Homo sapiens: one gene and its partner. The protein of the gene in region 1 purifies or fractionates together with the protein of each later gene. This does not show direct contact. Each region holds a gene or a part of one and is shown on either strand. Other genes may lie near its edges.

What was found. Proteins that work in one complex are often made in the same cells at the same time.
Region 2: the proteins of CNTROB (region 1) and GOLGA3 purify together in Homo sapiens (affinity purification with mass spectrometry; one large-scale study listed by BioGRID and IntAct). This does not show direct contact.

Annotation. Positions count from the first base shown.
Region 1 is NC_000017.11:7,942,060-7,945,705, reverse strand, and holds part of CNTROB (centrobin), read right to left. Parts: intron 2,316-3,646; coding exon 2,182-2,315; intron 1,584-2,181; coding exon 1,458-1,583; intron 1,231-1,457; coding exon 1,068-1,230; intron 1-1,067. UniProt on the Homo sapiens protein: Required for centriole duplication. Inhibition of centriole duplication leading to defects in cytokinesis.
Region 2 is NC_000012.12:132,818,776-132,822,421, reverse strand, and holds part of GOLGA3 (golgin subfamily A member 3), read left to right. Parts: intron 1-110; 5' UTR 111-293; coding exon 294-426; intron 427-3,646. UniProt on the Homo sapiens protein: Golgi auto-antigen; probably involved in maintaining Golgi structure.

The DNA of each region.
Region 1 (3,646 bases):
GAAGGGTCAAAGCACAGTAGGTTTAAAGAGATAAGACATGGTACAAACACTTTAATAAGATTATAAATTTCCGGATGCAGTGGCTCACACCTGTAATCCCAACACTTTGGGAGGACCGTTTGAGGCTGGCAGTTTGAACCAGGCTTGGCAACATAGAGAGATGCCATCTCTACAAAAAATTTAAAAATTAGCTGGGGGCAATGGCACGTGTGTGTAGTCCCAGCTACTCAGGAAGCTGAGGAAGGAAGATTGCTTGAGCGCTCTGGGCAACAGAGTGAGACCTTGTCTCAAATAAATAAATGATAAGTATATAAATAAATAAAATTAAAATTAAAATATCCTAATTTTTTCTTCTTTTTCTTTTTTTGAGATGAGGTCTCACTATGTTGCCTAGGCTAGTCTTGAACTCCTGAGCTCAAGTGATCCTTCTGCTTTAGCCTCCCATATAGCTGAGATTACAGGCGCACCACCACACCTGCTAGAATTTCATAATTAAAAGAAGGAAGTGGGAAGTATCAACGTATGAAGGGCTAGGAAGTGAGACTCCCTACTCTACTCTGGGGCAGGACTTGGCAACAATTTTTGGCCCTTTCCCTCATAATTAATTCAGCTGTCCCTCCACAAAACTAGTACCACGTATCATTTGTCCCCTCTTGGGACTGGGAGACTAGAGTTATGCCCAATGGAATGGGGCCAGTCTGAGTGAGCTATGGCCATGGAAAAAAGGATTTATTTTGCTGAGGCAGTTATTATTTGTAAAGTCCACCGATTTTTCTCCCCTGATGTAGGCCTTAGGAGCTGAACTTAGTACTTCCCTTGGGAGGGAGCTAGATTTCCAAAGAAGGAATCTAGAACACAGTTCTTGCTGGGCATGGTAGCTTATGCCTGGAATCCCAGCACTTTGGGAGTTAGAGGTGGGAGGATCACTTGAGCCCAGGAGTTCGAGGCTGCAATGAGCTATGATCTCACCAGTACACTCCAGCCTGGGCAAGAGTGAGACCCTGTCTCAAAAATAAAAATAAAAATAGAACATAACGGAGAAGCTTAGCTCAAGGGGTAAGGCGTACTGGAGGGTTGGGCGGCGGGAGAGTGGTGCTGAGCAGCTGGTTGGCCTCATCCCAGTGGGCCTGCAGCATGGCCTGCAGTCTTTCCACCAGCTCCACCCGCTGCTCCTCCAGCTGCTGGTTCCCACTCTGCAGTTCGCACACTCGCGCTTGCTCCCGGGCCAGTCTGAAGCAAAGAGAGAAGAAGTGACTCAGGGCCTTTAAGGAAGCAGATACTTGGGAGCTAAAAAGAGCCAGAAGGGAAATGTTGGACATCTGATATTCTGAAAGGAGCTGGGGCCCATGTAGAGGAGGACAGATCAATCAAGGGAGCAGCTCTTCACCGTTCCCAGTTTGGGCTCTACCCATGGGAAAGGGGCTGGGGCCTGAAAGGGGCACTCTGGGGACCAGGACCTGAGCTCGTAGTCCTCAGCCACCTGCTGTTGCCGTTCCTCTCGTTCTGCCATTTCCACCTTGAACTGAGCTAGCTGACTGGCCAGCTCCTGCTGGTGCTGTCCACTCAGGTCCTGCAGCTGCTTCCTACAGGGCACAGGTAGGAGAAGAGGCCTGAGACTGGAGACAGAAGAAGTGACCAACTGAGAAAAAGACATCATGTGTGCACATGACAGTGACCCAGATAGCCAGTCAGCTAGCCTGGCCATGGCACAGGAAGCGGCAAGGACAAAGCTGGGGTCTTAGGATGGGTTCCTCAGAAGCAGAGACTTAAATAAATTTATTTCGGAAGCAGTTCCAGAAAATCTCGGCAGCAGAATGGGTGTGAGGAGAAGTGAGGCCAGGCTGCGAGGAGGCTCAGTCCGACAGAGCAGCTCTGGAGACAGCACAGGTCATACCTCAGCACTGTCCCAGTGAGGGAGCTGGACCATCTATCATTCTGCACCCATCAGTTCTTGGTTAAGGGCTACTCCCTATGGGATGAAAATTCCCAGGCACTTCTGGCTCTCCATGAACGCGTGAAGGCAGCCCTCCCGAGAGAGACTCAGGTCCCAGCTGATGGGAGTTAGCGCACCCTGGGAGTCACAGTGCTGGACCATGGCAAAGGGATTGAAGGGAACACAGGCCTGGCACTAACGATACGTGCTGTGGCTGAGAGAAGTGACACCCAGTGAGTCCCACGTACCTGTGATGTTCCCTGAGGGAGGCTGCTTGCCGTAGGCTGCTCTCCTGAGCCTGCGCCAGCCGCTCTGTCACCCGCTGCTCCAGCTGCACAGCCAGCTCCGACTCCAGCTGGATCCGCTGGCTTTCATACCGGGCCTGGAGTGAAGGAAGGTGGGATAACGGCCCAAATCTGTTTGGGCTTAGAAGAGGATGGAGGATATAATGTAGACAAAATCCAGTACCAACTTTCCCCTCATATGAGATGAAGAACAAGAATTTTGCCTCAAGGAGTGAAAGAGGTTCCCTTTCCTTATTAAGATATTCGCACTTTAAACATACATCAAAGTGAAAATGACTATGGGTGAAAGACATAAATTTCTTAGCTAAAATAAATGTTCGACAGAGCAATCAAATCCATTCTACGTGTCTGATATAACATACCCTGAGGCTGGGCGCGGTGGCTCACGCCTGTAATCCTAGCACTTTGGGAGGCCGAGACGGGCGGATCACGAGGTCAGGAGATCGAGACCATCTTGGCTAACACGGTGAAACCCCGTTTCTACTAAAAATACAAAAAATTAGCCGGGCGTGTTGGCGGGCGCCTGTAGTCCCAGCTACTTGGGAGGCTGAGGCAGGAGAATGGCATGAACCTGGGAGGCGGAGCTTGCAGTGAGCCGAGATCGCGCCACTGCACTCCAACCTGGGAGACACAGCGAGACTCCGTCTCAAAAAAAAAAAAAAAAAAAAAAAAAAAAAAAATACCCTGAGTAGAGTACCTGAAAGCCAGTAGACATTCAATAAATGGCAGTGCCTCTTCCTCCTTAAGCAGTCAACCTATAAGTGTCTCCATTTTCTCAGCCACAGTCCTTCAACTCACTAAAATCTGATTTCCACGTATAGTATTTTACTATAAAGAACTCAACCTCTTTTTTTTTTTTTTTTTTTTTTTTGAGATGGAGTCCCTCTCTGTCACCCAGGCTGGAGTGCAGTGGCGCGATCTCGGCTCACTGCAACCTCTGCCTCCCGGGTTCAAGCAATTCTCCTGCATCAGCCTCCCAAGTAGCTGCAACTACAGGTGCGTGCCACCACGCCCAGCTAATTTTTTGTATTTTTAGTAGAGACGGGGTTTCACCGTGTTAGCCAGGATGGTCTCAATCTCCTGACCTCGTGATCCACCCGCCTCAGTCTCCCAAAGAGATTACAGGTGTGAGCCACCGCGCATGGCCCAAAGAACTCAATTTCTAAATCCAAATAGTGGTTATTTCTCAGCCCCTACTTCTGAGACAGAGTCTTGTTCTGTTGCTTAGCCTAAAGTGCAGTGGTGTGATCATGGCTCACTGCAGTCTTGACCTCCCAGACTCAAGAGATCCTCCCACCTCAGCCTCCAGAGTAGCTGGGACTACAAGCTGGTGCCACAACACCCAGCTAATATTTTTATTTTTTGTAGAGATGGGGTCTCATTATGTTGCCCAGACTGGTCTCAAACT
Region 2 (3,646 bases), on another chromosome or scaffold:
TTGTATTTGTTTCTTGTACGTATGCAAATTGGGAACCAAATGCTAATTTTGTAATTGATACTTGAAATCTGACAAGTTTCATAATACATTTTGTCTCTCTCTCCTGTCAGGTATCATGATATTAGCTGGTTTGACATCAAGTCATTTGTGAGTCATCAGATCTTCTCCTGAAAATGGGAGACACAGTAGGGCCCCTCCCAGGAGCTCTTGGCTGTTGCTGATGGCAGAAGCCAAGCTTGTCCAAGGTTCACTTGTAGCCCCTCAGCGTCAGCTCAGCTGGTGTCGTCCTGACCATGGACGGCGCGTCGGCCGAGCAAGATGGCCTCCAGGAGGACAGATCCCACAGTGGCCCCTCGTCTCTCCCCGAGGCCCCACTGAAGCCCCCGGGCCCACTGGTGCCACCTGACCAGCAGGACAAAGTCCAGTGTAAGTCGTGAGGTTCCTCTGTGTGCTGGTCACAGGAGGACCTGGTGTTGAGGGAGGACGTGGTGTTGAGGGAGGATGTGGCGTTGAGACCACTGTGAGCTTTTCACTTAATTCAAAGTTGTTTTTTTTTTTTTTTTTTTTTGAGACGGAGTCTCGCTCTTTCGCCCAGGCTGGACTGCAGTGGCGTGATCTCGGCTCGCTGCAAGCTCCGCCTCCCGGGTTCATGCCATTCTCTTGCCCCAGCCTCCTGAGTAGCTGGGATTACAGGCGCCCGCCACCGCGCCCGGCTAATTTTTTGTATTTTTAGTAGAGACGGGGTTTCACCGTGTTAGCCAAGATGGTCTCGATCTCCTGACTTCGTGATCCGCCCGCCTCAGCCTCAGCCTCAAAGTGCTGGGATTACAGGTGTGAGCCACTGTGCCCGGCCCAAAGTATGTTTTAGTAACTGAATGATGCCACCTTTAGATCAGGCACATTCCTGCTAAACAGAACTCCATTAAACGTGTGGGGCAGCAGCAGTGTTTCCCTGAAGGGATCTATGGGTCTTTATCATGTTCCCTGCCTAAAATTCTACCTTTTTTTTTTTTCGACGTGGAGTTTTGCTCTGGGTGCCCGGGCTGGAGTGCAATGGCGAGATCTCGTTTCACTGCAACCTCCACTTCCCGGGTTCAAGCAATTCTTCTGCCTCAGCCTCCCGAGTAGCTGGGATTACAGGCATGCGCTACCACGCCCAGCTATTTTTTGTATTTTTAGTAGAGATGAGGTTTCTCCATGTTGGTCAGGCTGGCCACGAACTCCCAACCTCAGGTGATCCGCCCACCTTGGCATCCCAAAGTGCTGAGATTACAGGCGTGAGCCACTGCGCCCAGCCATTTTTTTTTTTTTTTTTTTTTTTTGAGACGGTGTCCTGTTCTGTCGCCCAGGCTGGAGTGCAGTGGCACCATCTCAGCTCACTGCAACCTCTGCCTCCTGGGTTCAAGCGATTCTCCTGCTTCAGCCTCCCGAGTAGCTGGGACTACAGGCACCTGCCACCACACCCAGCTATTTTTTGTATTTTTAGTAGAGACGGGGTTTCACCATGTTGGCCAGGCTGGTCTCGAACTCCTGATCTCAAATGATCCACCCACCTCAGCCCCAAAAAGTGCTGGGATTACAGGAGTGAGCCACTGTGCCTGGCCGAATTCTGCCTTTTTGATTGGTCAGTTGCTGAATTTGTAATAGCTAGAATTCAGAAGTCGTCCCGTAGAGATCTAAGGATTACGGAGCACAGTGTTATGTTAGCCCCCTGGGTTATTCACGTGTCAGAGGGAAAGGGTGACTTAGTTATTCACTCAGTTCTCATGCCTCTTCCTGGCCAGGAGGTTCAGTGCTTTAAAACTGTAGACTACAGATGTGCTAATTTACTAGCAGAAGTCACAGTCTAATTCCTGTAAAATGATACTCAGGCGCTTAGGATGGCTTTGCTGGTCCTTGCTACATAAGCATCAGGTGAGGCAGATAACAACTTAGAGGCCCAAGATCAAGAGTTCTGAGACCCGCGGCCGTGGAACCTGCTCTTAGATCTGCTGCTCAGGAGCAATGTGCCCTCGAGCAAGACGCTGGGTTAATCTCAGCCTCCGCCCCTTTTTCTATTTTAAACATTTTATTACTGTTTTTAGAGTCAGGGTGTTGCTCCATTGAGCAGGCTGAAGTGCAGTGGTGTAATCATAGCTCACGGCAGCCATGAACTCCTGGGCTTAAGTGATCCTCCTGCCTTGGTCTCTGGGGTAGCGGTGACTATCGATGCGTGTCAGCACGCCTAGCTGATTTTTTTTTTTTTGAGACGGAGTTTTGCTGTTGTTGTCCAGGCTGTAGTGCAATGGTGCGATCTCGGCTCATGGCAACCTCCGCCTCCCGGGTTCAAGCGATCTTCTGCCTCAGCCTCCTGAGTAGCTGGGATTACAGGCATGTGCCACCACGCCCAGCTAATTTTGTATTTTTAGTAGAGATGGAGTTTCCATGTTGATCAGGCTGGTTTTGAACTCCCAATCTCTGGTGATCCCCCCACCTTGGCCTCCCAAAGTGCTGGGATTGCAGGCGTGAGCCACCGCGCCCTGTTGCCTGGCTCATTTTAAAAACTTTTTGTATAAACAGTCTTGCTGTTGCCCGGGCTGGTCTTGAATTCCTGGCCTTGAGTTATCCTTCCACCTCGGCCTCCCAAAGTGCTGGGATTACAGGTGTGAGCCACTGCGCCCGGCCTAACCCAGTAACTTTTATCTGAAATGCAAGGTTCCCCCTCTCCCAGCAGTGGAGCTCACGGGTCCTTTGCATGAAAGGCGTCTCAGTGCGTTGGTCGGGTGCCCGTGGTCTGGCTTCCTGTCTGGCACCCCTGCTTTTATTCTGGTTTTTCTTTCGGGAGGCATGACAGTAAGTATCTGCTGTTAGTTTGAACTCACATTTGCAAGTGAAAGAAACCTTTTCTTTTTTTGAGACGGAGTCTCGCTCTGTTGCCCAGACTGGAGTGCAGTGGCACGACCTCAGCTTACTGCAAGCTCCACTTCGAGGGTTCACGCCATTCTTCTGCCTCAGCCTCCCAAGTAGCTGGGACTATAGGCGCCCGCCACCACGCCCAGCTAAGTCTTTGTATTTTTAGTAGAGACGGGGTTTCGCCGTGTTAGCCAGGATAGTCTCGATCTCCTGACCTCGTGATCCACCTGCCTCAGCTTCCCAAAGTGCTGGGATTACAGGCGTGAGCCACCGCGCCCGGCTAAGAAACTCATTTTTAATTTGCTTGAGCAAAAAGCAAATTTGCTGTCCTGCATGCACGTGGGATCCGAGGAATGCTGACCCCTGTGAGACACGGAGGTGTTGCCGGGCCTCCAGAGCCACCGGAACCAGGACCAGAACCCCCTGAGGACCCTCCCTCCCCCCTCACATGTCTTGGTTCTTTGACTGTGAACTGGCCCACCCACCAGTCAGCAGTTAGGGGGCAGGGAAAAGACTGAAAATCACTTCATTGAAAGAAATCTTTCTTTGTTCCATTTGATGAGGAAATATGTTTTAGTTTGTGTTGTGGGTAATTTGTATATAATCATTTTAGTGGGTGAACTGAGGTAACACGTGGGTATAGAATTGTCACTGGTCCAACCCAGGCCTTTACCCAGCAGGCTGTCATCAAGCAGAAGCGCGGTTCTGGGCTGTCTCTGCTTCACGGGTGGTGTGATGACATCATCCACCTCTT